2 linked regions of the Homo sapiens genome follow. The protein of the gene in region 2 interacts with the protein of the main gene of each other region in a biochemical or structural test. Each region holds a gene or a part of one and is shown on either strand. Other genes may lie near its edges.

Region 1 (10,715 bases), on a different chromosome or scaffold from region 2:
TGAGCCATCGCGCCTGGCCGATCAAATTCTTAAAAAAAAAATCAAAATGAAATACCAAGGGTACAAAAGTAAAAAGTAAATCATTTCTGCTAACCAAGTAAATAGAGTACACACAAAATACAAACAAAAACATCAGGATAAAAATGCACTGAATAATCTGTGAGACAAAAAAATAGGTACATTGACAAGCATTAAGTTTTATCAAGCCCATACACATTTCAATAATGTACTCTGAAAATTTTAAAAGGCTGAATCACAAGGAAAGTTTGAACTTCTCTCTATGGACACTACTTAACATAAGAACAGATTTTTAAAAGGCATATGCTAAATGTCTGTACTCCTAGCCCATATATATATATATTAAGAGGGAAAAAAAAAACAACTACTTCTTGTCACAAGTTATAGGGAAACCTAGAAACAATTGTGCAAATTAATAACTGGCAATTCATTTCTGCATGTTGGGTTTTTCTCCAACAAGCTTTATTTGTTACAAAAGCCTTTAACTGTATTATTTCCCAAAATACCATGTGATGGAATGAATGCTACACCCTTCCCTCTGGGTCAAATATCACCAAAATAGCTTTAAAATCCTATGTAACAGATTTAGTTAGATTGACTTCGGAGCAAATTATTTACGAATATCTTTTCTTGCAACATGTCTAAACTGCTGGAGTACCCCAAGGGCCACTCTAATTTAAGCACTTCACGAGTAGACCTGAATAGTAAATTAAAATGAAGAAAGGCAAGAATGGAATGATGGCCTTTAGTACGGACCCCAGAAAAAAGTTACTCTGTGTTCTGGAATAATGGGCTGCCCGGCAATGAGACATATCCAATCCACTTGCCGTTATAGTCCTCTTTGTAAAATGGCACCTTTGCTTTTAATCCATGAGTCCACAACATTTTTTTCCATAAACAGTTCTCACCAGCTCTCCCTGCCCTCAAAGAACTTACAATGTGGTTGAGGAGATCAACAAATAAACATCTATGTTTAAGTGCTATGCTAGGGGTGAGCACATTGCAAAACAGAAGGGGAAGGCTCTTGAACCAGTCAAGGGGGTGGGGATCTTCGGCAAGTACACAAGGAAAGCTTTGTAAGGAATAAGGTCAAAATGAGGTGACATGTGGAGGAGAAAAAGCATTCCAGGCAGAGTAAACCTGTACATATGTCTAGAAGCAAAATAAGCACGAGAATGTTCAGAGAACTCAAAGTACTTCAGTATGGCTTAAGGTTCTCTAGAGTGCAAGGGAGAAGATAATTTAAAGATGATAACTAGACAAGTAATTAGGAAAAGCCTTACAAGCGGCATGAAGGTGTTTAAGCTTTAACTCCAGGGCAATGGATCCACATACCCACAAACACTCCTCCCTCCAGTCCCTAATCCTGAGGATCATTTGTAATCTTTGTTAACAAGGGGAATAAACATTAAAATATAAACTGAAAGTGTATTTCTCAAGGAATGTTTTCCTACCTGCCAAGCCTTGAGTTCAGGTTTCTGGGATTCCCCTGCTACAACTGATGAAGCCACTAACACCTAAAGCAGTATAAGGAATGCAAGGGATGTCATTAACTATAACAAACGATACACAGAAGCCTGAACGCAGGACTTTCACTGCAGGACTTTTAAACCCATTTCTAAACAGATTAGTTCAAACAGAGAAAATTAGTTTCTAAAATATGGTTCAAGTAGTAACTAATGCAACTAACAGAAGGTGTATTTTGAGCTACGATACCTGCAAAATTTAAAGAGAGAAGGCATGGAAAAAAGAGAGTCCACTGTCAAAAGAAAAATGTGACCACTAAATGCAACCCCATTATTTTGTGTTTATGGCATAAGAGTTGTTACTGTGAATAAATTGAAAAGTATGTATCACACTAATTTGTAGTATCTCATAAGCTGGCAATTACATTTGGAAAAAAAATAGAACATAAGTAGCCTACAAGTCTAACCAGAGAAAACATCCAAAATACCAATTGTGACATCTGAGACAAATTACTTGTATTGTAATTCAAAGTGACAAGTAATTCTTACCCTCTGGACTTTTGTACTGTTAGGTTGAGAAAAATGGGTGCTGTTTTCCTTTATATCTAAATGTTTTTTTTCTTCTGGGGCATTAGGTCCAACCCTTGAATTATTGGAAGGAAGGGAATTTGGTGGCATAATTTCCTTGGTAAAAAACAGAAAACACAAAAGAGAAAAAAAGGACCAATTTAAGACTTTATTTAGCTCTATTAGTGTTATCAATCATCATATTTTTAAAAAATGTAAGTTATTATAAACAGTTTTGGTTTATAAAATTACCGAATACAAATTGTACGCAGAAAAAAAAGATTTAACTTTAGCTAAAAGAATCTTTCAAAAAGAAAGCTAGACAATATGTGAAAATTACGGCTCTTTGATGAGACAGTATCTTAAGAGTACTATTGCACAGAAAGGTGCATCCTCACCTCTCTACCCCATGCAAATACTTTAAAAGCTGCTACAAAAAGCATATATTTATGAAGATAAAAGGGTTACAGAATTTAAAGGTAAGGAGGATGGGGAAGAGATATTAAGCACAGAAATAAATTTAAAGCACACAGAATAAACACACATACTACACAATCCCCACACTAAAAAAGTGAAAAGATGAAAGCCAGAAAACCTGTGTTCCAATTTTGCTTTTGTCAGCAACATTAACATTTACAAAGTGCTTTACGAAGCATTTACATATATATTATTTTATTAAATTGCCATTAACACTCGACCCAGTGATGTATGTCTCATATTTAAAAATTTATAACTACCCATTTTAAAGATCAGGAAAAAAGAATTCAATAAAGTGACTAATCCAAACTCACTGCATTAGAGGACAGAGAAGGGCCATTATCTACAATTATAACATTAATTACAGCAGGCATGCTTGATAATCAGAATATTTGCATTCACTTTATGCACATATTAGAGGTCCTCAACATATCACATAAAAAACTTTTACTTTTATTATATGTGCCACAAAATATTCGCACTGTAACATACCTCTTCTTGTGGAACATTTTTCTCATTTTCAGCCTCAATCCTCACCCTCACAACTCCTGACTTGTCCACAATCTCCTGAATCAGCTTTCCATTTTTTCCTATTACTTTGCCTAAGAAATAAATAAATCAAGTTTGGTTTTAAAAACACATACCTCAAAGCAGTAAGCACAGCCCTACTGTAAACTATTACATTCATATAGATAGATATTTTTATGTGTATGTGTATGTATTGAATTGTAAGATTTCAAAACCAAAGTAGAGACTCTTTTCAACAAGATGGTTAATCTGGTTTTCTGTTTAATTAGGACATCATTGTTTAAACTCCTTTGGTCAGGTACCAGAGTTGATTAATACTTGCAAACTGATAGGGTAATTTTGGATTTTTAAGGCAGTTCAAAGATAACCTCTTATTTTTGCACAAAAGGGTACGCTTTAAACTTGCTGGTACTGTGGTATGTATCATTCTTTCTGCAAAGTTCTATAAGAATTAAGAAAAAAGTAGAGAGAATGGGAAATATATTCACTTATTCAACACTTTCAATTCTTGTCTGTACCTGATTTAAATCTGCTTCTTTGTCCATGGTAAATATTTTCAGAATTCTGTATGGAAGGCACATTTATAAAAGATAATCTAAGTCTGAAAGTGGCTTAAGCAGCTATACATACATCCAAAAGGAATACAAATTCTTCAAGGTCAATGTGTTAACAGAGTATCACTCCTGTGCATTACTTACAAACTTTAGCAATGTATTAAAAAGTGAAGGGATTAGTCACAGAGTAAAAGATTAAGAAAACCCACTTTAAGATAACTCAAAACCACAATGAAAAAGCTTTAAACCAATTTAAGTATTTTTCAGTAACATCTATTAAAACTTGGGATTTCAAGTACCAGTAAAAAATAGGTACTTGATCATTTCCTTATTTATTTTACAATCATATACATTACTGGAAAATGACTGCTTTCATTTGCATCATGACACGAGTGGTAAAGCAAGACATTACAAACTTAAGAATTACTAATTCTGGAAATGTACATGTGAACTACATCTGATTCTGAGGGCTCACCCAAGGTACCTAAGTACCCTTACATTGGCCACATCCACCATGTGCTTGCCCTCACCATCTCATCTTCCATTTTTTCCTTTTCGCCTTTAAAGGCAAAGCTCAAGGCAAAGTTGGGGGAAAAGATGGAAGCAAAAATTTGCTTTGAGCCAATGCTAGATAAGAACTCAGTGAAAAGCCTTCTCACAAAAAATTCTTGTGGCTCTTGTAATCAGAGCATAGCTTTGACATTCTTGCTGTGTGTGGCTGCCTCATTCACCCCTAGAAACTCTTTGACTGGTCATAGAACAGATCTGACACCATTAAATCAGGATTCTTGGTCTAGGTCCTTCTGTCAATTATTTCTGTTCTTCTATAACGAAAAGGGGAAAGGTGAGGTGAGAGAAGCTACTTGGAGTCTTCACACAGTTTGATTTTAAACTGCAACACTTACATTTTCATGAATTAATGTTGACTTTAATAAAGATCTAAGTGAGTTAACAAAATGAAAAATGAGATTTGGGGATGTTTTTATTAAGATAATATCTTAATTATCCTAAGTACTGTGTGTTAACTATAGCTGACTGAATAGTCATACCAATTCATTCTTAGTGAGTGAAGAATCCAATTTTAATGAAAAGATAAATTAGTGCACATACCAAAGAGAGTTTGTGAAAAATAGAGATCACAAATAACGTTGGTTGACTCAAACAAAACACATGCAAAACTGATTATGACACCTCTCTAAAGATCTGCCTTGCAGAATCTTACACAAAAATGCTTTCTGAAAAGTTCCAACGTTCCCAGTGTTGCAGTGGACCATCTCTAAAACAGAATTATCTCATTTTACTAACTAGAAACAACAAAACAAAAACAAGGCTGATTTACTTTTAGCAGTCTTTCTGGTTATTTCTGAGATCCTCTTCTTTCCAGGTAACCACAGGTAGAATCTACTTTTAATATTTAATAGCAAATAATCCAATTCTACATTACACTTATTTCCAAATCCCAAAGAGCAATTTACTGTGATTCTGTTCTACTGAAATGGAGTTGTTTTGAATAAGGTGAAGAACAGAGTCCCCTACTGTGTCCAGAATTGTCCCCTACTATATCTTCCAATTTAATTATCACATCAACTCTATGAGGTGGATCCTATTATCACATTTGATAGGTAAGAAAAATAATTCTCAGGGGGGCTAAGACAGTGACCCACGCTCACATTGCCACCAAAGAATAAAGTAGGACTGAAATCCAGATCCAACTCCAATGCCCAAGCACTTTCCCCACTACCATCATGCCATCTTCAAAACCAACTTTAATGAATCTGACACATAATTCTCTACTCATTTGCTATTAAAAAAAAAAAACAAAACAACTACCAGCTCTTTTTCCATAAGAATTCCTAAATTTACAATAACCTTTCTAACTACAAAAGGTATGCAATTGCTTGACAAGCTGTAAAGAAGAAAATAAATATTATTCATCACCCAACTGTCTTGAGATTAGCACTTTATCTTGCGCTATGCATACATTCTGTACACATACAATTGGTATGCAAGTTACCTTAGTAACATTACAAACACATTTCTCCAGTTGTCTGTAGTACACAGTTGAGCTAACACTTCTGCATTATTTTCCTACTATTTGCACTTTATCTTCAAGCTAATTTTCTTTGGGAGATACATTTATCATTTCTAGTGTTTGTTAATGACAAGGAAGATGTTTATGAGTCTATGCTGACAAAAAAGCAGGCTAAATTAGCATTGAAACTACGTAAACAGAATGTATGAGAAGTCCTTGCTTTCTTCTTTAAAGTTTCCAAAGAACATGTATTACTTTATATAAAATGGCCATGATCTCAAGTTTAAAAGATAAAAAACATATAGGCAGTATGTCCCAATTTTATTTACAAATTAAAAACATATGTAGCTTTCTTGATAAAACTGCACCTGGTTTTGATATGTTCTACTAAAGATATCTGCAGCATTTAGGAGTATTGGTGAAGAGCTCCTAAATATTTGCTGATACTCACGATGGTGATGGTGATAAAACACTACTCAAGTCAAAATGAAGAATTACTATTGACTTTGCAGAAAGTCCCAGAGACATCTGAAGTTTCTTCTAGCTTTGGAACTTTTTAGATTTAAGTAACCTATGTTCAGATCTTCAACCCTGAGATAATTAAAATGAATGCTATCATTTTATAGTCCCATAAGAAAGATCAAATACAAATCTATTTCAAATCATAAAGTCCCCAAATATCATTCATTTTGAAAAATTATTTAATTTTAAGATATAAAAGGTATACAGTCAGGAGGGCTGGGCAAGATTTATCCTTTCAGGTATTAGTAGGTTTGAACTAGAAAAGCAATCTCTTTTGAATACCTTCTGAAAATGTAACCTTTGAGCATCATACTTAACAAATATTTTTTTGTATGCTGTAAGAACAGATCGATTGAACAATGAGAACACATGGACACAGGAAGGGGAACATCACACTCTGGGGACTGTTGTGGGGTGGGGGGAGGGGGGAGGGATAGCGTTGGGAGATATACCTAATGCTAGATGACAAGTTAGTGGGTGCAGCGCACCAGCATGTCACGTGTATACATATGTAACTAACCTGCACATTGTGCACATGTACCCTAAAACTTAAATAATAAAAAAAAAGAACAGATCATATTTCAAAGACTATGTTTCAATTAAATGATACCCTCCAGTAAGAAAAAATGGAATTCTATCACTATAAATAAACTGTTTACCTAAACTTAGTTGTTGTACTATATGTCAACAGATACTTCTGACTTACCTACTAAGTTCCTTGGAACTTGTATTACATCTTCAGCAAATTCGAGAAAGCTTCTAGCTTTTTTCACTGCATCCTGATCCTAATAAAAGGGGAAACATTTTAAGACAAAAGATTAGCCAGCTGAAATACTTGTTTGGGGAAAAAAAAACTATGCAGTAAAATATTTACCTCTCCATAAATATGAAATGTGCAGGTATCTTCATCTAGATCAATAGCAGTGACCCCAGGTACTTTTCTAGCTTGCTGAATATTAGCACCATGAGTACCAATAGCTAGACCCATCAGATCTTCTCTTACGATAAACTGTTCATGAAATCTCGAGGCAAGCTGCCTTGAACTCTGAAGAGAAATGGACGTCTGATGAATACACTTTATCAACTATTACGACAACTGTATTTAGGCCAGCCATGTAAATTATCTTGACCCTGTATATGAGGGGTCCATAAATTATTAATAGTTTTAGGTTAAAACTAACAGGTTTTAGAAAATACCTCTCACAGCCTAAGTACTTTTTAGGTTACTAAAGGTCTATGACATTTTATATGTTTTTGTTAATAGGAAAGAACTTGTTGACATTTTCCAAGGTAACTGCTGAAAACTTATCACAAGGCTGCCTTAGTTAACCAATGACATCAGCAATATAATAACTAAGAAGCAGGTCAAATGTTCCCCAGTAAAAACCAGCTCACTCGGTCTGACAAACTCAATGTTACTTATTTAGGTAAAAAAATGTTTAAATATCATCTTTATAGAAAATTTTATTCGCTTCATTTTTATTAAAAGGTATCAGTATATATTTTCTGGAAACAGTGCCATTTTTTATAACATCATTAGGTACTGTGGTCTAAACATTCCTCTGTTGAAATGACATTAAAATGACACCTCCCTCAAAACCTAAGGAATCAAAAATTGTTGGTACAGTAGTTAAACTGAATAATCAAAAAATGTCAAAAATTAAAAACTTAGTAAGCATCTGAAAGCTAACATGAGACCAGAGTCCGTAAGACCTTGTGATCTGGATCCACAATTATGATGAGCACTTGTAAATATCCAGTGATGACGAAACTAAGTTACACTGACATCCCAAACTTGTGGATAACCACTGTCTTTAAATACCATTATCAAAATTTAGTGTTCAGTTCTAGCATGCCATTAATGAAAACCAAACGTATTAGTGGCTCATGTTGAAAAATGGGAATTTCTTATAGGAACATGTAAATCTCTTTAATATTAGTAGTGAAGAAAGATAGGCATGCATACTAGTTTCTCATTGTTCAACAGACCTGATAATTTGAATGAATGAATACAACTAGCATAAATAATTTAAAAGTGCAATACCCATTTTTTTTAGACTAGAGTAATAAAATCTATAAAATAATTCTAGGACTTTTCAAGAAGTCATGTTTTTTGAGTCCTGGTTCATTAATCTGGTTCGTTCTTTTTCATTGATAATTCACTGATAAATGGTTAGCCAAAAGTATGATAGATCATTTAAGAATAATTCGATGTTTAAGAGGCATATGAGTATATTTTCATAATACTCACAATCAAAGTAAGGAGGCAGCTCTGGGCTAAAAGTTATGAGAGAATCACTGAAGGAACCACAAAATCATGAACACAGGGACATCAAGAAAGAATGAGAGCAAAGACCAATTAAACAGACCTCCATGGCCTTAAGAAAAAACAAAGTGGCAAAAGGAGATTAAACTTTTCCCCTTCTGCTAAGAGTTCAGCATCATACATCAAGTTGACAGGTGGCAAATTTCACAGGGTTTTTATAAGAACACAGTCTTGACTACCTTTTCTCCTAAAATGCAGTTTGGAACTCCTTTTTTTCTTTACTATTTCAAATGTGTGGTGTTTTCCTTCTAATGAATAATGATGACGAACTCTGGAATTTGACAGGAATATAGTAGAGCTGGCACATTCATCTAAGATCCACTTAGTTTCTATAGTAATGGATGGACGTACTTGATAGTTATCAATGAAAACAAATATATGGTGATGAAAATTATTGGAGGATTAATAAAAGTAGATAAAATGCACCTTAAGAGACAAAATAGTAAGTTAGGGAAATAGCCTCTGGCGGGAATCTGAAGACAGGAGTTTTAAAGAATGACAACCAATTAGAATGAAGAAGTTCTATACCCTTTTAAACAAAGATAAACATACATAATGAGAGGAATATGATTAGATATTTAAATATTCTCTAGTATTTTTAATGACAACATGTTATATGGAAGAAGCATTGCCGCATTTTATTAGCAACTTTGATAAACTTCTAGTAAAAGTGAAAGTACCAGAAGTCCCTTAATATACATAAGCTGCTGTTTAATTTTGAAACCTCAGGCATGGAAACTTTAGTATGATTATGCTTTGTACAATTTTCCAACTATAGAACCTAAGGAATTGTTAAGAAGCAGTAAATAAATGACAAGCTCCCCATATTCAAGTTGTGGAATGATACAGTTAATCGTTCCTAGGTACCCTTACAAGCAGTGCTAGGGAAAGTGACATACCTCCAGCTGCTTACTAGCTTCTTCATTTCTCATTATCAGAGACAACTTAGTGCGCAGACTCCGAAAGTGCATGTCAATCAGCATATGTGCTCGCTTTGAGGTGACTTCATTGATGGACTAAATGATTTAAATTAACAACATTATTATCAAGGCAATTGCCCCAGATGAATTAAACTAAAAATAAACAACTCAAAAATGCTCACCAAAATGACAAGCTGATAATTTTCTGGATCATAAGTTACAGAAAAGGCACCAACTGCCTTTTTAAAATCCTTATGTGCCGCCTCTTTGGCACACCTAGAAATTTAAAAAAAAAAATTAAGATGAATAATTACCAACTACTGACATAAATAAATGCAGGCAGATTTACACATACAAGAATCATGGATTCATATTAAATTTGATTTATGCAAAATATGCTATATCCATTTAGAAGCTTAGCTCCTTTTCTGTACATTTCTGAAATACAGCTTAGATTACCAAAAGAGACATATTCAGGGGAACCACTCTACACTACAGGTTTCCTGATTTCAGTTACATACAAGTCAGTAGTTTTCTTAAGTCAACTATTGAAAACTTTTGGAGATAGCTACCTACAGGGTATCTGATTTCTTTCTTCTTCTCTTGTTGCAGGCCTTTTTTTTTCCTTTTTTTTTAATTTTTAGTTTTGTGGGTACATAGTAGGTATATATATTTATGGGGCATATGAGATGTTTTGATACAGGCATGCAATATGAAATAAGCACATCACGGAGAATGGGGTAAGAAACTGCTAAACGATTTGAGGGAGAGAAGGAAACGTACATGAACCAGAAGGCACAAAAATTTACACACATACACAATCTCTAGAAAAGGGAGGATTTCTATGTATTCTGAACTGCAATTTAATGTTCAACAACATGTCCAAATCAAACGTACTGTATTCACTTAATAAAATCTGTAAAAAATAAAAATGCGTCTCTTCTATAGTCTTTAAGCATTATTCCAGATCAAGGATTGTAAGATGAGATGACTTTTTAAAGCTTCTTTGGCTCTACTTATTACACATTTATCTGAAAACATTTTAGGTAAAAGAGAAAAAAACGGAGAAATCGTTTATAGTTTGTGACTTATGACAGAATTATCACATTTGTTTGATCAGTTTTTAAATCTTAGAATGAACAAAGTTAGTTTAGAAAACAAATGTACATTATGTACATCAGACACGTGTATAGCCAAGTAAGTTTAAACAAGCGCAAGGCTGCCTTGATTCTATAAGTAGGAAAAGTTAAATAAGTTTTTTCTCCATTGCTCTTGCAAACCAAACCATTTTTGCCAAAGTCCACC
Region 2 (17,644 bases):
TTACCCAGTCTCAGATATTTCTTTATAGCAGTGCAAGAATGGCCTAATACATCCATTAACAGAGGACTGTCTGGATAAACTATGGTGCCACTGTACAGGGAAATATGAAGCAGCAGGAAAATGGAGTGAGGACCCTCTCTACATGCAACTACGGGTGATCTCCAGGACATGGTATGGAGAGCATGCACTCATTTACCCAGGAGAGGGGGCTGCAGATGTCTACACACACATCTTCTACTTAAAAAACAAACAATGGAAAGGCAAGCCATATGCTTTTAAAAATTAGTTACCTATGGAAAACAGGAAAAGAAGGGAAAACAGTTAAGAGATAGGGGCTAGAATCCTTTGAATATGCCTTATTTTGTAGATTTGACTTTGAAAACGTCAAAACATTTTACATACTTATAAAATAAAATTTAAATTTATAAAAAGTGGCCCCCAAATCGAAAAGTAAAATGAAACAAATGAATGTATATATATGTTGTACTATTGGAGTAACTCCACAGAAAGGGACTATTATTCCAAGTGATTTTAAAATCGAGTGATGTGCTGGAAGAGCCCTGATGGATCACAAAGACATCTAATAAAAGCTTGGTTTTTATTACTTTGTTACTGTTAGATGAGCCTGTGAACCAACCTTTATGTTGAGAATTGGTAAATAAAAGCAAACATTTAACCTGTCTTTCTTAAACTATACCACTAGATAACCGAACTATAGAAGAGATGGATGTTTCTTTCCATAAAAGTATTTTTTTCCTTTTTAACAGAAAAATGATAATATCCTTGTTTTCCAACCTCTACAAACAAATGGATCTAGGCACGGATCATCATCAGCTGTTAACATCCCTAAATGAAAGACAATCAGATATTATGTGCTTAATGATGGAAAAACGCACCAAGAATGCTGGATCCAAAACAAAACACCTGAATCTAATTAAGCCTTTGACGCCAACTCACAGGAAATATAAGAGGGCAGAAAAACATGCTACACCCCAGTGATGTAATCAGCAAAATGCAATCTATGACAAATTCTGCTGGACAAATGACTCAGGACCTCTAACAAATAAATTGCAAAGATAGAAAAGAGAGATGGGAGGAAAGTCTATAGATTTTGAAGAGACTGAACACACTATCATGTGTGGACCTTATTTGGATCCTATTTCAAACAAACCACCATACAAATAAAATTATAACTTTATGAGAAAATTAGAAAATTAGTACTGACTGGATATTTGATAATATGAAGGAAATATTGTATTTAGGTTTGATAATATCAAGGTTATGTTTTAAAAGAACCTATATCTTCCAGAAAGATCTACTAAAATATAGATAAAAGGACACAGGGTTTTGCTTCTAAATAATACTAGATGGGGGAAGAGTGAATAGAAATGAAACAAATTCGCAGTGAGTTAGTAACTATAGATTGTGTGTGACACATACATAGAAATTACTGTATTTTTCCATCCAATTTTATATATGTTTCAAATTTTTCATAAAATCCCCTAGATCAGTTTATAAGCTCCCAGCTCTTATCCAACTTCCCTTTTTTTCTCCTGTAACTAGGTTTCTTCTGGGCTACTCAAACTTAAAAAATACTCATTTACAGACGGGTGTGGTGGCTCACGCCTGTAATCCCAGCACTTTGGGAGGCTGAGACGGGTGGATCACCTGAGGTCAGGAGTTCGAGACCAGCCTGACCAGCCTGGTCAATTTTTCTTTAGTAGAAATCCCATTTCTACTAAAAATACAAAAAAAAAAAAAAAATTAGCCAGGCGTGGTGGTGGGTGCCTGTAATCCCAGCTACTCAGGAGACTGAGGCAGGAAAATCACTTGAACCCAGGAGGCAGAGGTTGCAGTGAGCCAAGATCATGCCATTGCACTCCAGCCTGGGCAACAAGGGCAAAACTTCATCACACACACACACACAAAAATACTCATTTACCAGAATAACCATTAAGTTCTCCTCTGTAGCATAATAGTACCCCTGAACATCCCTTGAAGAGAATCAATAAGTAAGTGAACAACCTACAAAGCAAATAAATTAGGAGTCTGTTTATGTTAATGCTATCTTTCTTCTCCCCTGGCAAATACAACTTCTGTAGTGGATTTCTATGAGCATTGGTAGATCATTCAGTGCCTAAGGGAGAAGGAAATCCGACATTTTTAGCTCAAGTGCTGGTAGGCACTGCCAAATCCACATCAATCAGAAAGGAAAAATATTCTGGAAATTTGAACAGAGGTATAAATGAAAATAAGAACGTACTTCTTTCCTGCCCAAGTGTCCTGCCTGTTACGCAATCTTCCAAGTGAGAATGATTCTTTATATTCGGTCTACGAACATGTGACCATTTCATCATTTTGAAAAAGAAATTAATAAAATATTTAAAAGTTAACAGTGTTCTGGGAGCATCATTTACCAAACACAGCTGCAAATTCTCAGTGGCGGGCATTCATGATGGGTTTAAATGCAGTGTCTTCATAACAAACTCAGTCGGTGGCCTGGTTTCACCAAAAGTAATAATAACATTGGGCACACAAGCAATTTGCTTCTGAGAAGGGGGGGCTTTAGGTGCCCCCCCAGGCAGACATGACTGACAGACCCCAAGCAAGAGGGGGGTGGGTCCCATAAATGCAGGGCGACTGCCAGGAGAACATGGCTTTGGAAATGCAGGTTCTGACATTTACAGCTTAAACCCTGTTTCTCTGTAAGCAAAATACTTGCATTGTCATTATCTGTTTGATTTTTCTGGAAAGAAATGAAATATTAAGACTTTTTACTGAAGTGAAATATTAGGCTAGTGTAGTGGGTAAGCTTGAGTTCTGGGTTTCAATCTGTCATCTGCCACTTATGAGCTATATAAACAATAGCATGTTCCTTAACCTCTCCGAGCCTCAGTTTCCTTACCTTGTAAGGGTGACAATTTACAATAGTGCCTGTCCTCAATGTTTATTTTGATTATATAACTACAGCATGTAGAATACTTAACACAGTAGCCAGCAAAGACATGTCAAAAGACAAAATTACAATAAATTTATAGAATTAATTGTCCTTAATTTGTGATTTATGAATTGAAGCACCTCCTTTCTATACAATAGAATGAAAGCTCCCACTGGGCAATAGCAAAACTGTGGGTTTTGTAAGGTGGGAATAAGAAAACACAACAATAGAAAAATAAATGATTAGTTAACATCAAGTTACTTCAGGTTACTTTTTTGTAAGGATTAAGGCAGAGAGGATTTGCTTATTATGCTGACTCAGGTAGAGAGTGGCATTTAGCATGAGTGACTCCATTTTGATTTGGTCTGGTTTTTAGGGGCCTAGTACAGGAGCTTAGTCTTAAACAATGGCCTCCCATACTTTCGTTTAACATTCGCTAGTCTGTGGCCTGTTTTCAATAGAGAGGATGAATTAAATACTCCAACAATTCTCCTACCAAAAAAAGGAAGGTTTATTATTATTACACTAATATCTCAGTTCTATAGATCTTTCACATTGATTTTCTCAATCACAACTATCCTGCAAATTCAATTCAGCAGGTATAATTTTTGCTGTGTTTCTGAGGACACTGTGTTATGGAGAAGTAAACACTTTTATTCAAGGTCACATGGTCAGCTAGTGGCAGAGGTAGGGTAGAAACAGGATACCTTGACTCCCAATTCTATGCCTTTTCTTCTAGACCACACCTGGTTTTGTACCTTTTTGAAAGGTGCCAAACATATTTTTTTCCCAGTTTGGCTGCTTTTTCCTTCCTCAAGAAGAACACAACTCTGGCAAGCTAGAAAGATTAGGTAATTGTCACCTTTGTGTTTCATGAACATCAAGAGGCCAGGAAATATTTTCCATGTCCGTATGGCGCTCCAGCCAGAGGCTATATAAGTATACGTACACACACACAAACATACTGCACACACATATACATATATATACACATATGTATACATATATTACTACAAAGAAAATATTATATAGATATATAAATATAAAAATAAATAAAAGGGAGATTTAGGTTGTTCCTATTAAAAAAATTTACAGTCATTTGCCTCATAATGATGCTTCAGTCAACAGTGGATCATATATATGATGGTGTTCCCATAAGATTATAATATCATATTTTTACTGTACCTTTTCTATGTTTAGATACACAAATACTTCCCACTGTGTTGCAATTGCCTACAGTATTCAGTACAAGAACATGCCGTACAGGTTTGCAGCCCAGGAGCAATAGGCTATATACCATATAGCCTAGGTGTGTAGTAGGCTATGCCATCCAGGTTTGTGTAAATGCACTCTATGATGTTTTCTTGGCCCCAGAATAAAACCCAAATACTGCTACTTCTTCCTCCCATGCCAGGACAGACATTGCTAATTGGTAATGACTCTATTTTCCACTAAGTCCACAGACAGCTTCAGAATCCTCATGAAATACTGAGCTCCAGGAAGCCACCAGCAATCAATCTGAGTTTGCCCATGAAATAAAACATAACATGCCCTCTCTGGAGTAGAACCATGCATGTGAAAGCTCCTCAAGGTCAGGGACCATTTTCTTACCTATCACTGAAAATGCAGAGACCTTAGCAGAGTGCTGCAAACAGATTAGGCACTGGGGAAGTACTGAATGAAAGAATTCATGAACACACCTCAATCTCCTGACAACATAGGAGAGAGGAGACGACCTGAAGTTGGCCATGTCCTTACTTCTAGTTTTTCCATTCCTTCTCCTTCACTATTAATAACACAGATAAGGCCAGACTCGGTGGCTACACAGATAAGACCGGACTTGGTGGCTACACAGATAAGGCCAGACTCAGTGGCTCATGCCTGTAACCCCAACACTTTGGGAGGCCAAGATGGGCGGATCTCCTGAGGTCAGGAGTTCGAGACCAGCCTGGCCAACATGGTGAAACCTCATCCCTAATAAAAATACAAAAATTAGCTGGGCATAGTGGTGCGCACCTGTAGTCCCAGCTACTCGGGAGGGTGAGGCAGAATTGCTTGAACCTGGGAGGTGGAGGTTGCAGTGAGCTGAGATTGAGCCACTGTACTCCAGCCTGGGTGACGAAGCGAGACTCTGTCACAAAAAAAAAAAAGAAAAAGAGAAAAAACCCATACAGATAATTTAAATCAGCATAGAATACATAGTCATATCCATAAACTGCCAGGATAATTCTTACTTAATATTTTTTTCTAGGGATTCTCTTTTTTGCCACTTTTCATTTTAGAAGGAAGCTTTATATCACAATCACAGAGAGAAAACTAATATTATATGCCATAAACAGAGGAGCCATAAAAAACATAGTAATGAACATAAACACAGGTCTGGGTATTATCTGAAAATCATCCCATGTCCACCACTGATATCCATATGAGAGGCATTTTAGTGTGGAGGTGAACTGGATAGCTTGAGTTAGAATCTTACCTCTGCCAATACCTAGTTGTGTGACCTTGAGTAGGTGACATAACCTTTCTGAGCCTCACTCTCTTCATTTTGGTATAAGGGATAATGATAGTTCCTATCTCTTAGGCTTTGAAAACTCAATGAGTTAGTCCATGTAAATGGCTTGGCTGGTAGAAAGTGCTCGATAAAAGTTAGTGCCTCAGCAAAACTGAATCCAGAAACATATAAAAAAGATTATGCATCATGAACAAGTGAGATTTATCCCAGGAATGTTAAGATTGGATTAACATTAACATCAGAATATCAATTAACGTAATAAGCTATAGCAATAAAGGTCAGAAACCATATCATCTCAATACACACAGAAAAAGCATTTGACAAAATCTCAACGCCTTCATGATAAAAACACTCAAAAAACTAGGATTAGAGAATATCCTCAACTTGACAATAAGTGGCCACAAAAAACTCTTAGCTAATATCAGACTTAATGCTTTCTCACCAAGATCAAGAACAAGACAAATAAGTCTGCTCTTAGCATTTCTATTCAACATTGTACTGGCAGTTCTAGCCAAGGTAATTATGCAAGAAAATTAAATAAAAGACATCTAGATTAGAAAGGAAAAAGTAAAACTATTCCTATTTGCAGATAACATAGTCTTGTTATAGAAAATCCAAGAAAAATCCACTAAAAACTATTGAAAGTCATAAACAAGTTCAGCAAGTTTGTAGGATACAATATCAGCATATAAAAATCAGTAGTATCTCTATATACCAGCAATGCACAATATGAAAATAAAATGGAGAAAACAGTTCTATTTATAGTAGCATCAAAAATAATACAATACTTAGAAATAAACTTAACAAAATAAGTACAAAACATACACTCTGAAAGCAATAAAACCTTGTTGAAAATATTAAAGACCTAAATAAATAAAAAGATATCCCATGTCCATAGGTTGGAAGGCTTAATATTGTTAACACGGCAATACTGCCCAAACTAACCTACAGATTCAACATAATCTCTATGAAAATCTCATCTGGTTTCTTTGCAGAAATTGACAAGCTGATCCTAAAATTCATATGGAAATTCAAGGGACTCACTCAGGATAATCAAGACAATCTTGGGGGTGGGAGGAACTGAACAAAAATGGAAGACTCACACTTCCTGATTTCAAAACATACTCAAAACTACAGTAATCAAAATTGTGTGGTGTTACCATGAAGACAATGAACAATGATTAAATTAATGGAATTGAACTGAGAATCCAGAAATAAATCCTCACATTTATGGTCAATTGACAAGAGATGTAGAAAGAATATTCTTTTCAACAAATGATTCTAGGACAACTGGATACCCACATGCAAAATTTGTTTTATGGTGTGAGGTATAAATAATGTAATATATAATAAATTAACTCAAAATGGATCAAAGATCTATGTAAGAGCTAAAACTATAAAACTCATAAGAGTACATCTTTGTGACCTTGAATTATGTAATAACAACAAAAACACAAGCAACAAAATAAAAAATAAACTAAACATCAAAATAAAAAAAATTGTGCTTCAAAGGACGCCATCAAGAAAGTAAGTCCACAGAATAGAAGAAAATATTTGCAAATCATGTATTTGCTAAGTATATAAAATATGTAAATAATTCTTGGCTGGGCACAGTGGCTCATGCCTGTAATCCTAGTACTTTGGGAGGTTGATGGGAGAATCGCTTAAGCCAGGAGTTCAAGACCAGCCTGGGCAACAGAGTGATACCCTGTTTCTACAAAAAAATTTTTTTAAATAAAAATAAATTTAAAAAATGAATTCTTAAAACTCATTAATAAAGAGAACCTGATTTTAAAAATAGGCAAGGAACAGATTTTTCTCCAAAGATATACACATAGCCAATAAGCACACAGAAAGATTAATAACCTTAGTTATTAGGGAAATGCAAATCGATACCACTTCACACCCACTAGGATGGCTATAATGAAAAGGACAGACAATAACAAGTGTTGGCAAGGATGTGGAGAAACTGAGAATACCGTTGCTAATGGGAATGTAAGATGGTGCCGCAACTTTGGAAAATCGATTGGTATTTCCTCAAATTTTTAAACACACAGTTACCATTTGACCCAGCAATTCTACTCCTAGGCATACACCCAAGAGAAATGAAAATACAGGTCCACACAAAAACTTGTACATGGATGTTCATGGCACCATTATTTGTAATAGCTAAAAAGCAGAACTAACATATGCATCAACTGATAAATAAAAAATTGTATAGCCACATGGAGTATTTTTCAGCCATAAAAAGTAATTAAGTACTGATATTGATACAACATGAATAAACTTTGACAATATTATGCTAAGTGAAAGAAGCGAATCATTAAAGACCCCGTATTGTATTGTTCCATTTATTAAACATGCCCAGAATAGGCAAATCTATGGTTGCCAAGGGGTGGGGTTGGGGGAAATAGGTGGTGGTGCTAAAGGCCATGAGATTTCTTTTTGGGGTGCTAAAATGCTCTAAAACTGACTACGATTATGGGTTGTACAACTCTGTGAATATATTAAAAACCACTGAACGGTTTTTTTTTTTTTTTTTTTTACACAGAGTTTCACTCTTGTTCCCCAGGCTGGAGTGCAATGGCATGATCTCACTCACTGCAACCTCTGCCGGGTTCAAACGATTCTCCTGCCTCAGCCTCCCGAGTAGCTGGAATTACAGGCACCTGCCACCATGCCTGGCTAATTTTTGTATTTTCAGTAGAGACAGGGTTTTGCCATGTTGGCCAGGCTGGTCTCAAACTCCTGACCTCAGGTGATCCACCCACCTTGACCTCCCAAAGTGCTGGGGTTACAGACATGAGCCACCATGCCTGCCCTGAACTATATTTTTTAAATGAGTGAATTGTACAGTATGCAAACTATATTTCAATAAAGCTGCTACCAAAAGTTAGTATTTTTATAACTACTTTTTGGGAAACTTTGAGTGTAACATAAGCAGAAGGGGTACAAAGAGAGCTGGGGGTAGAGTAGGAGCTTGGGGAGTTTGGGGACTGTAAATGATGCCCCTACAAGCAGAGGCTGTGGAGAGCAAAAACCAACGGGGATAGCAGGGGAGGAAAAGAGTAATAGATACAACCATACCACCCCACAGAGCAGCCCCCTAAACTGCAGGGGTGAACTAGACCATACAGGGCAGGCCCAGCTAGCTTGTTTGTTCCCTCCCCCTGCCCCTGCCTGTTTTGGTTTCTCTGCCATCTGTCAGGTCCTGGGGCTGCCCCACCCTGGAGTAAAGACTTCTCAGATAATATTAACTGAGGAGTAATAATATTACTGCCTGTGAGGTGGGTGGGGTGATAGGTTCTGAGGTTTAGAATGAGAACAAGAAGGGAGCCTAGCTCTCTTTCTACTGATGAGGAAACCAAGGCTCAGAAAAGAGAAGGGACTTGTGCAAGGTCACTGGGCTAGTTAGGGGTGGAGCTAGGGTTAACACTGCACTTCCTGAGAAGACAAGGGACTGCAATAGAATAACTCATATGACACAGAGCTTTAAAAGAAAAGGACAGGGCCAGGCACAGTGGCTCGTGCCTGTAATCCCAGCACTTTGGGAGGCCGAGGCAGGTGGATCACCTGAGATCAGGAGTTCAAGACCAGCCTGACCAACATGGTGAAACCCCATTTCCACTAAAATTAAAAAATTACCCAGGTGTCATAGCACACGCCTGTAATCCCAGCTACTCGGGAGGCTGAGGCAGGAGAATCGCTTGAACCTGGGAGGCAGAGGTTGCAGTGAGCTGAGATCACGCCACTGCACTCCAGCTTGGGGAACAAGAGTGAAACTCCATCTCAAAATAAATAAATAGATAAATAAAAAGACAAGTATTGCAACAAAAATTCTGCAGCGAAATGAAAAGCCCTCTAAGAAAGGAAATATAATCAAAGGACTTTACTTGGCTGTCTGTGATCATCATTTATATATATTAATAATGTAGACACTTTAAACCTGATTTAGGTTAAAATAGAGCTCTTCCTATCTTGAGAGACGGGGGCAGGGGAGGGAGGGAGATGGTGTAAGAAAGTGAAATCTCCATCCATCACAGCAGGAAGTAAATAGACAACGTGCAGAATAGATAAATCGAGAAACAGCAGTGTAAGCATATCATTTAGAGATCTGGAGGCAGCTACTAGAAGAAACAGTGAGTTAAAAGTGGCAGCCTCTAGGGGAGGGTGGGTGCTGGATGGTTGTTTTTCATTATAAGGCTTTCAATACTATTTGATTTTTTAAAACATTTGTATATATCGTTTTGATCAAAATTTAATAATTTGCTTTAGAAGACAACCACCCAAAGTCTCCTTGTTAGCAGTTCAGACACCTGGCCGGTACCCAGCACTGACTGGCAAGGTGGTCTTTGTTGTTTCAGTCCCCTGCTCCTGTCCTCCGGGACCAGAGGCCCTATCACCTACAGCTTCTCTCCACACAGGGGACCTGCAGTCAGAGCCGAGAAATCAAGTCAGCCTCGACTTGGGCCACTGGAGAAGGCCTATCCTCCTCGTTGTTTATGAGTAGACTGAGTAGACAGAGAAAAAGATCTTGGTGGGGGCTAAAGGACTTTCCCCTTCGTTTGCCATTTTGCCCAGCTGCTTCCTGTGTTGTTAAGGTTGAGGTGGCCTTTGTGGTGACACCAAACCAGGCTACCAGCAGCTCAGGGGAACGGCCTCATGCTCTCAGGAGGGGAAGTCATGCCACCAAGGTGGCTTGCTGATTTGCTCCTGCTGGGGCCCTGGGGCTGTCATATGAGGAACACCAACATGACGCGTATGTGGGGAGAGGAGCTGCCTCTCAGATGCACCTGCTAAAACTCACAAGGGAAGCCATGCATCTGCTACGGAAACAAAGAGGAGGGCTTCAGGTCTGGCCACCAGATCGGAGCACGTGGAACTCAGCTCCATCGATGTGAAACCACAACTCGAACATGGCTCAGTATGAAGACAAAGGCCCCCAAATCACATTTTCACTCACTCTAAAAGGGCAAATTTCTCTGTCTGTAAAATGTGGAGGTTAGCCTTGGTTCTCTCTCAACCATGATGTCCAAACCTGCCTTGTGAAGGTTATTGCGGGTAACTTGTGCTAATAATAGCTTAAGCACTGAGGTTTGCAAACAAGGTACATTTTATTGTATGTGAGGCGAGGGTTCAAGATCTCTGTGTGATATTATTGCTTGCATGTTCATCTCTTCCCTTGAGTGGCAGGAATGGAGCAGAGTTGGGGGGTTGGCTGTGGGGGCTGATGTGTTCAGCATGTCAACATTGTCCATTTTGTGTACTAAAAAAACCACAACAGCAACCAGTTAAGAATCACTGGATTTGGGCCTCTCTCAGGACCCTCCCAACACTAAAGCAAATGACCATGACTACAGTTGAGACATTCCATCCAAAGGGCTTCCTTAAAGACATGTGTTAAGGATCATGCAGACCATTCTCTGTGGCCAAGGTATACAGGGCATAATAAACCTGTCCAAGGATACTCTTCCTTTGTGCCTTTGCTCAAACTGTCTCCACTCCCTTATGGACTGTCTTCTTCCCTTCTCAAATCTTACCGATCTATCATGGCCCACACGAAGACATGCCTTTTCCACAAAGGTCTGACCAGCCAAGCCCCTTAATGACCTTTATTTCTCTCACTCCCTTAGCACTCACAGTCTAGAGTCCACAGTTTTTAACTGCACGACAAACTGCTTTATATTTCACTAATTCTTTGGATTGCTAAGAATGCCAAGGATAGTCATCTTATCTGAGTTTGACCCATAGCAACCAGCACAGAGATAGGCACACACCAGGAATTACTTGCTTAATTAATACTTCATGAATGATTTGTTGACTGCATGAGCCAATGACCAAAATTCTTAACTTCTGGTTTAAAAAAATTAACAAGAAAGTTAAAATATCATGCTTCTCTAAGGTCCCATATCCAAGGCTGCCTTGTCAATATAAGAATCTGAGGAGAGTTCTTTAGAAAATCCTTCTGTCGTATAGTTTCCACTTCAAACCCTAAGAAGCAGGTCCTCATTTCTCTTTCCCATATGGAAGTATAACAGACTTGGAGATAGGGGGCTGACCTCTAGTTCTGAATTCTTATCTTGCCATTCATATCTTGCCAAAACAAATCTTAAAGCATCATATTTTAAAAGCACAAATCAAAAATAGTTCTCGGATATTCCTTAAGAGTTACTGCATGTCTTCTCTGAGGGTCAGCCCTGCAAATTCTCTTTGATCTCAGCCAGGCCTTCAGTGAAGTTAGACAATTCTCTCATTCTTCCCCAGTTTATTTCTTATTCCACCCACATAGGCAACTGTTCCAAACCCTGAAGTCTCCTGAAGTTTCCTAACCAGTCCATCACCTTTATTTCCTGCAGAGGACCTCACCTCCTGCCTTACTTAGAAAACAGAGAACATGGACAGACTAAACACACCTCTGTTTTACCTAGAGATTAAAGCCTAAGAACCATTGCTCTACAATGACCAAATAATGACGCAAACAGAATCAAAAGGTCTACTGATGAAGTCATCACTGGGTCTTTCTCAGGCATCTCGCAAGAAGGTCCTATTTACTTCCCTCTCTCACTGCCTGTATCTGAGTTGCCCAAAGTCTATCAAAATGCCACGCAACCAGAATGATCCCTGCAAGAAATTCTGCCTGAACTCAAGCTCTGCCTTCTCAAAACAATTTCTTTCAAGAATTTGCACCCTCTGTTGCCAGGGCCCAAGTATGGCTTAAATGGCTATTTTTTGAGGTACATCACACACAGCCCTTAGCATAATGCCCATGGCTAGAAAGCCAATATCTAAGCTCTTTGCATCCTGGGAGGCGTCCCATACCCACTGACTGAATTCTGAAGTGTCTTTGTACAGACAAGGCCATCCAGGGGCCTTGACAGAATCTGTGAATCACAAAGTGCCTTTAAGCTTCCCATTGGCTCAACAGTACAGAGAGGCCACAGATCCATCTTCTTAAAGTGACACACAATATATAATTAATAAATTGTTTCTTAAGGAATGGAGGGCATTTACCCAAAAGAGTCACACATTCAGGAGGCTCCTTCTCTATTTCCACGGCTTTTTTTTCTCAGACTGGGATTTACAGACATTACCTCATCCGCAGGCTTTCATGATGACAGGCAGGTAACAGTTGGGCAGGCTGCCTTCCATTGCTCAATTTTGAACGTCAGAGAGGTAGTGGCTGGTTTAAGGGCACACAGCAAGTCAGGGATCCTGTGTCCCATGCTCACTGTGCTGCTCTGTCTGCCCTGGAAGCAAAGCATGCCCTCAACATTTTTGGATGGTTGCAAAATGCTGAATTCTCACAGAGGAAGAGGCCCTTCCTTAACTCTACGTGTTGAAATGTGAGAATGGCCCTGGGCTTCTGCTTGGCTTGTTCCCTCCCACTTCTCCCTACCTACTCAGGTTCCACCCACCTCTCTTGTGCTACTTAAGAGCACTTCCCACCTGAAGCCTTTCACTTCATGCCCTATCACTCTTAACTTTCCCTTCCTTCGGCCGGTAAACTTGGGGCTGGGTTTACTGGTCACAGAGACCAACTTCCCTCAAAAAAGCAAAATTCAGGAAAGCTCTGGAGGGAGAGGGGCTGGTAATAGCCAAGGGTTGATTACATACATAAGCCAAATTCTTAATGATTATGTAATTAATACATTATAACAATAAATACATAAATATGCTAGTACTTACTATGTGCTAAGCATTCTGCTCGGCACTTTCATGCACCCCTTGGGTAGTAAGAGCATCCAAAGATATTCTAGTTCCTCCCCTGCCTCCATTCACTGCCAAGAAGGCAGCAGCCTGCCCCCCTTCTCCCACCATCTCACTACTGATGCAGGGGCCATCCCCTGGACCCTAGGCATGGCTTTGCTCCTCAGAATGACAGGACCAAAAGCCTTTCATAAAGACTCCAGTGAGGTGACTGATGTCTGGCTTTGTCAATTACAAGTGAATAATTAATACTTGCCAGTAAAGAAATAGACTCATTGTTACGGTGGCCACATGGAGGCTACAAAAGGCCATTTTGTGACGCTTTTGGTGGACCCCTGGGGCCAACAGTGGTCCAAAGAAGCTGCGTTGAGAGTGTAGTCCAATCTTTAAACGTAGGGACTGGGACCCGTACTGTTTTCCAGGAGCGCTTTTCCCGTTAATTAGCTTGTAGCCGATTCATCATCTCATTCAGCTTTCTGGTTGATGACAGCAGCAGAGGCCACTGAACATCAGAGAGGGCATGATTTATCAGAGGGGTCATGTAGTGTTCTACCAGGGCCTTTTACCGGTTTTTGAATTCATGTCTACTTCCTTCTCTGGGCCAGCATCTGATTTGAGTAAAACTCTCCAACCCCACTGGGTTGTACATCCGACTCTTGGCCTAATGCCTAAAGCAAGTTTTTCCTTTTTCATTTTCCAGCAGGGACTGAACAAGGCAGCCTTGGGTGCCTACAGAACCGGTCAGAACTGGCCAGGAAATATAATAAAGAAGCTTAGTGAGCAGAGAGCTAATGCCCCCAGCCAGAGGCTCAGTGCGCACAACTAGCTAGAGGCACTGACTTTGTAAGCAACAACACTATCTTCTTGAGGTCTAATAATTGCCTTGGCAAAGGGCAGCCAATGCCAACGAGGAACCCTGTGTACACAAGTTTCTCATCCCGAAAGTGGACACTGGGTGCTCAAAAAATGCCTTCTGGTGACAGTAACACCTGACCAGTCAAACAAACATGCACGCATGCACATGCATGCATACACACTCTTACAGCATTCCTGCCTGCAGGGCCAAAGCTGCCCTTGCCAAATACAGAGCTGACAGCTGCTAGATATTGTCATTTCAGGGACCCGTTCCCAAAAGAACTACCCAGCTCCCCACCTCCACTTCCAGCCCACTGTTTGAAATTCTACCATTAGTGATAGCAAATATTTCTACAGTGTTTCCCATTAAAGCTTTGTTTCCCATTAAAATGCCTCCATCCTCTGTTTCTTTTCCGGTCAAATGACTTGTAAAGCACCTGCTCTGCATCAAATGGGAACTTCTTTTGTATTTAGCTCTTCAAGATAAACACAATCATTGGCTCCTTTCTTGAAAACCATTTCTGACACTGGAGACTGGGGGAAGGGCAGGGCACTGTATGGAAGTGGAGGTGGGAGGCCACCAGGAGGGCCACAGAGAGAGGGTCTAATGGTGGAGAAAGCAACCATCAAGGCCTTCACAGGCCTGCCCAAAGATATGGACCTGATTTTTGCCCTCTAAGATCTCAGGGACCCAGGTTGCTGGCACAGCCTGTATCCAAGAGTAAGGTGAGACCCACTGCCCTAACTGGGACACAGACAGGAGGCAGGAAATGGGAACACAGGAACCGACAGTCTCCTGATTTGCCCCTCCTGCCAGCAGGCCTGCCTCCGTCTCCCTGCCCATGCTGAGGGCACAGGCACCCAGGAACTAGCAGAAAAAGATCCTTGTCCCATTCTTGGCCTAGCTGGAAGGACAGCTGATGGCTCATCAGCCCTGGTGAGTGTTTCCACTGTGCTGGGGAAAGTAGGCAAGCAAAGGTCAAAATCAGATTCCCTGTGCTGGGGAGGCACCTGGGCTGTCAGTGTCCTTTCCAGCCGGGTTCTGGATATAGAGGGCCATACTTATGTGGAACATGCTACCTGCCCCCATCCCCAAGCAGAGAGCACCTCCTCCTCTTCTTTTGCACATAGGTGGGCTGTTCTTTGGGGTGAGGGGTAGGGCTGACCTGAAAAGTAGACGCCACAACAGACAGGCAAGCATCTTCCTGGTTCTTCAGAGCTCAAGAAAAAAACCACCTTTTCCCCCAGGAGTCAGCCCACTCATCCCCTTCCCCCACTTCCACCGTGCCCGCAGCCAGCTTGGTGAGCGATGCTAGTGTAGGCCAGAAAGCTTCCAAGCGGGTCAGACCTGCTCCTCTCTCATCAAAGCCCTCCGCCCCCAAACATCGACGCTGCGCCCCTCGCCCCACCCATCACACGTTCTGTGTGCCCGAGGCGGCTGCCAGGCGGGCCCAGGCGGCTCTCGCTGGCCCTGGGGGAGGTGACGGTGGTCACGGCGGCAGAGGCAGGGGCCAGCGCTCTGCAGTACCTGGACTCGAGGATGTCGCCGCTGCCGGGCTCGCGGCCGCTGCAGGTGTCTCCGGTCCCTGAGATTAGCACCGCCTCCTCCCGGGCTGGCGGCTCCGGCCCAGGCCGCGCACCTGCTGCTGCGGCTCCCCCGCCGCCGCGCCGGAGCTCCGCGATGTGCCCGCGCCTCCCGGGCAGAGGGTCCGTGCCGCGGGACGCACGGTGGGTCCGAGGGGGAAAGGGGCCGCGTGGGGCCTGAGGCCGGGCCTCGGGCTAGCCCGGGCACAGCGCCGAGCGCCCCCCGCGGGCCGGGAGAGGGGGCGGCCCTTCGCGCATCCTCACGGCCTCATCCCCGTCCCCGGCGGCATCCTAGTCCCCGTGCCCGGCCCGAGGCCTGCGAGGGCCGCTTACCTGGCTCTGCGGCGGGTCCAGGGGAGGGGCCTGAGGCTACCGCAGGGCCCCGCGCCGGGGCGCAGGATGCTCTGCCCCGCTCCGCTGCGCCGCGCTCGGCCCCGCCCCGGCCCCGCTGCTCCGCCCGCCGCGGCTCCGCCCCCACCCAGCGCCCGCCCCTTCGCCGCAGCGGCTGTCACACAAAGGGCAGGAAATGGCTGCGGCGAGGGTCTCTCCACGCTCTCCGCTGTACCGCCGGCGCACCCAGGACCTGCCTCTCGGTTTCGGAGGACCGCTCAGCCCCCAGGCTTCCTGCCCTGGGGGCGGGAAAGGGAGGGAAGGCTTCTTCCACGGCCTCCATCACCGGGAACCACACCTGCAGCAACCCGAGGACGAGAGCTTCGGCCGCGTTCGGATCTTATTGGCCCCACATGATTTCCAAGTGCTCTTTTATCAACCCAGTCTTTATTGATTACCTATCCTGTTCCAAGTACCGTGCCAGGACTTGGGTGTGCACTGGTGTACAAAAGACAGGGTCCTGCCCCCTTGGAGTTTTATCACCTGCCAGGAGAAACAGGTGTAAATTAACCTAGCAAACGTCCAGTTACAGCCCAAAGTGCTCTGAGGAGAAGGAGCAGGGTGAAGTGACAGAAGATGCAACTGGGGCTAGGGGAAGGGGCCTTCCACCAATTGAGCTTGGTCGCTGATAGGGCTCCTTCGCTTAAGAATAAGTTCTTCCGCTCCCTTCCAGTTCCCTGGAGAAGAGTCCCTGAAGCTGCCACCTCTTTTACAGGGGCCTGCCTCAACTTCATTCTGGAAGAATTGCCTAACGGACAAATAGGTGGCAGGAAGCACTGAGAGGACAGGTACCTTTCTCTTCAAGGCTTATCTGCCGTGTCGGGCTCTTTAAAGAAGCAATTATCTGCCCAGCGGTGGCTCACACCTGTAATACCAAAACTTTGGGAGGCCGAGGAGAGAGGATTGCTTGAGCTCAGGAATTGGAGACCATCCTGGGCAACTCAACGAAACTTCATCTCTACTAAAAATTAAAAAAAAAAAAAAATAGATGGGTGTGGTGGCATCCACCTTTTGTCCCAGCTACTCAGGAGGCTGAGGTGGGAGGATTGCTTGAGCCTGGGAGATTGAGGCTACAGTGAGCTATGATCCTGCCGCCGCACTCCAGACTGGGTGACAGAGTGAGACTCTGTCTCAAAAAAAAAAAAAAAAGAATGAAAGAGAGAGACGGGGGGAGAGAGAGAGAGAGAAAGGAAGAAAGAAAAAGAAAGAGAGAGAAAGAAGAGAAGGAAAGAAAGAAGAGAAAGAAAGAGAGAAAAGAAAAAGAGAAAGAAACAATTCTCATTGAAATCCAGCCTGGTAGGCCTTCAGACCAGGCTGAAGTCAGGCTGCACCAAATTCTAACCTTGAGACACCTGAGCAGGTCACTTCACCACTCTGCTCCACAGAGGTCACCGTATCTGCAACACAGGGAATAACAGTTGCCCTTTATACCTTACAGGGTAAATAATTTGAAAACATTTGAGACATTGTGGAGTGTATGTAGATATAAGGAGTGGTTTCCTAAGGCCCACAAATTTATACTTAATCACTCAGCTGTTCCTAATAAGGGCAATTTGTGGAGGAGCCCCGTTATTCAAGCTCCAGCAAAGGACTTGTGGAAGCCTTTGCTTTCCTTTACTGATCTCACCTTATTTCCCACGTGCTCAGAATCCATA

The links.
Region 1: the proteins of CYFIP2 (region 2) and FMR1 form a complex in vitro, tested with the Homo sapiens proteins (one study listed by BioGRID and IntAct).

Annotation. Positions count from the first base shown.
Region 1 is NC_000023.11:147,928,919-147,939,633, reverse strand, and holds part of FMR1 (fragile X messenger ribonucleoprotein 1), read right to left. Parts: intron 9,687-10,715; coding exon 9,593-9,686; intron 9,507-9,592; coding exon 9,390-9,506; intron 7,210-9,389; coding exon 7,039-7,209; intron 6,950-7,038; coding exon 6,871-6,949; intron 3,131-6,870; coding exon 3,021-3,130; intron 2,169-3,020; coding exon 2,034-2,168; intron 1,536-2,033; coding exon 1,473-1,535; intron 1-1,472.
Region 2 is NC_000005.10:157,264,484-157,282,127, reverse strand, and holds the start of CYFIP2 (cytoplasmic FMR1-interacting protein 2), read right to left. Parts: upstream 16,006-17,644; 5' UTR 15,933-16,005; exon of another isoform or gene 15,544-15,932; intron 15,348-15,543; exon of another isoform or gene 15,182-15,347; intron 12,805-15,181; exon of another isoform or gene 12,545-12,804; intron 1-12,544. UniProt on the Homo sapiens protein: Involved in T-cell adhesion and p53/TP53-dependent induction of apoptosis. Does not bind RNA. As component of the WAVE1 complex, required for BDNF-NTRK2 endocytic trafficking and signaling from early endosomes.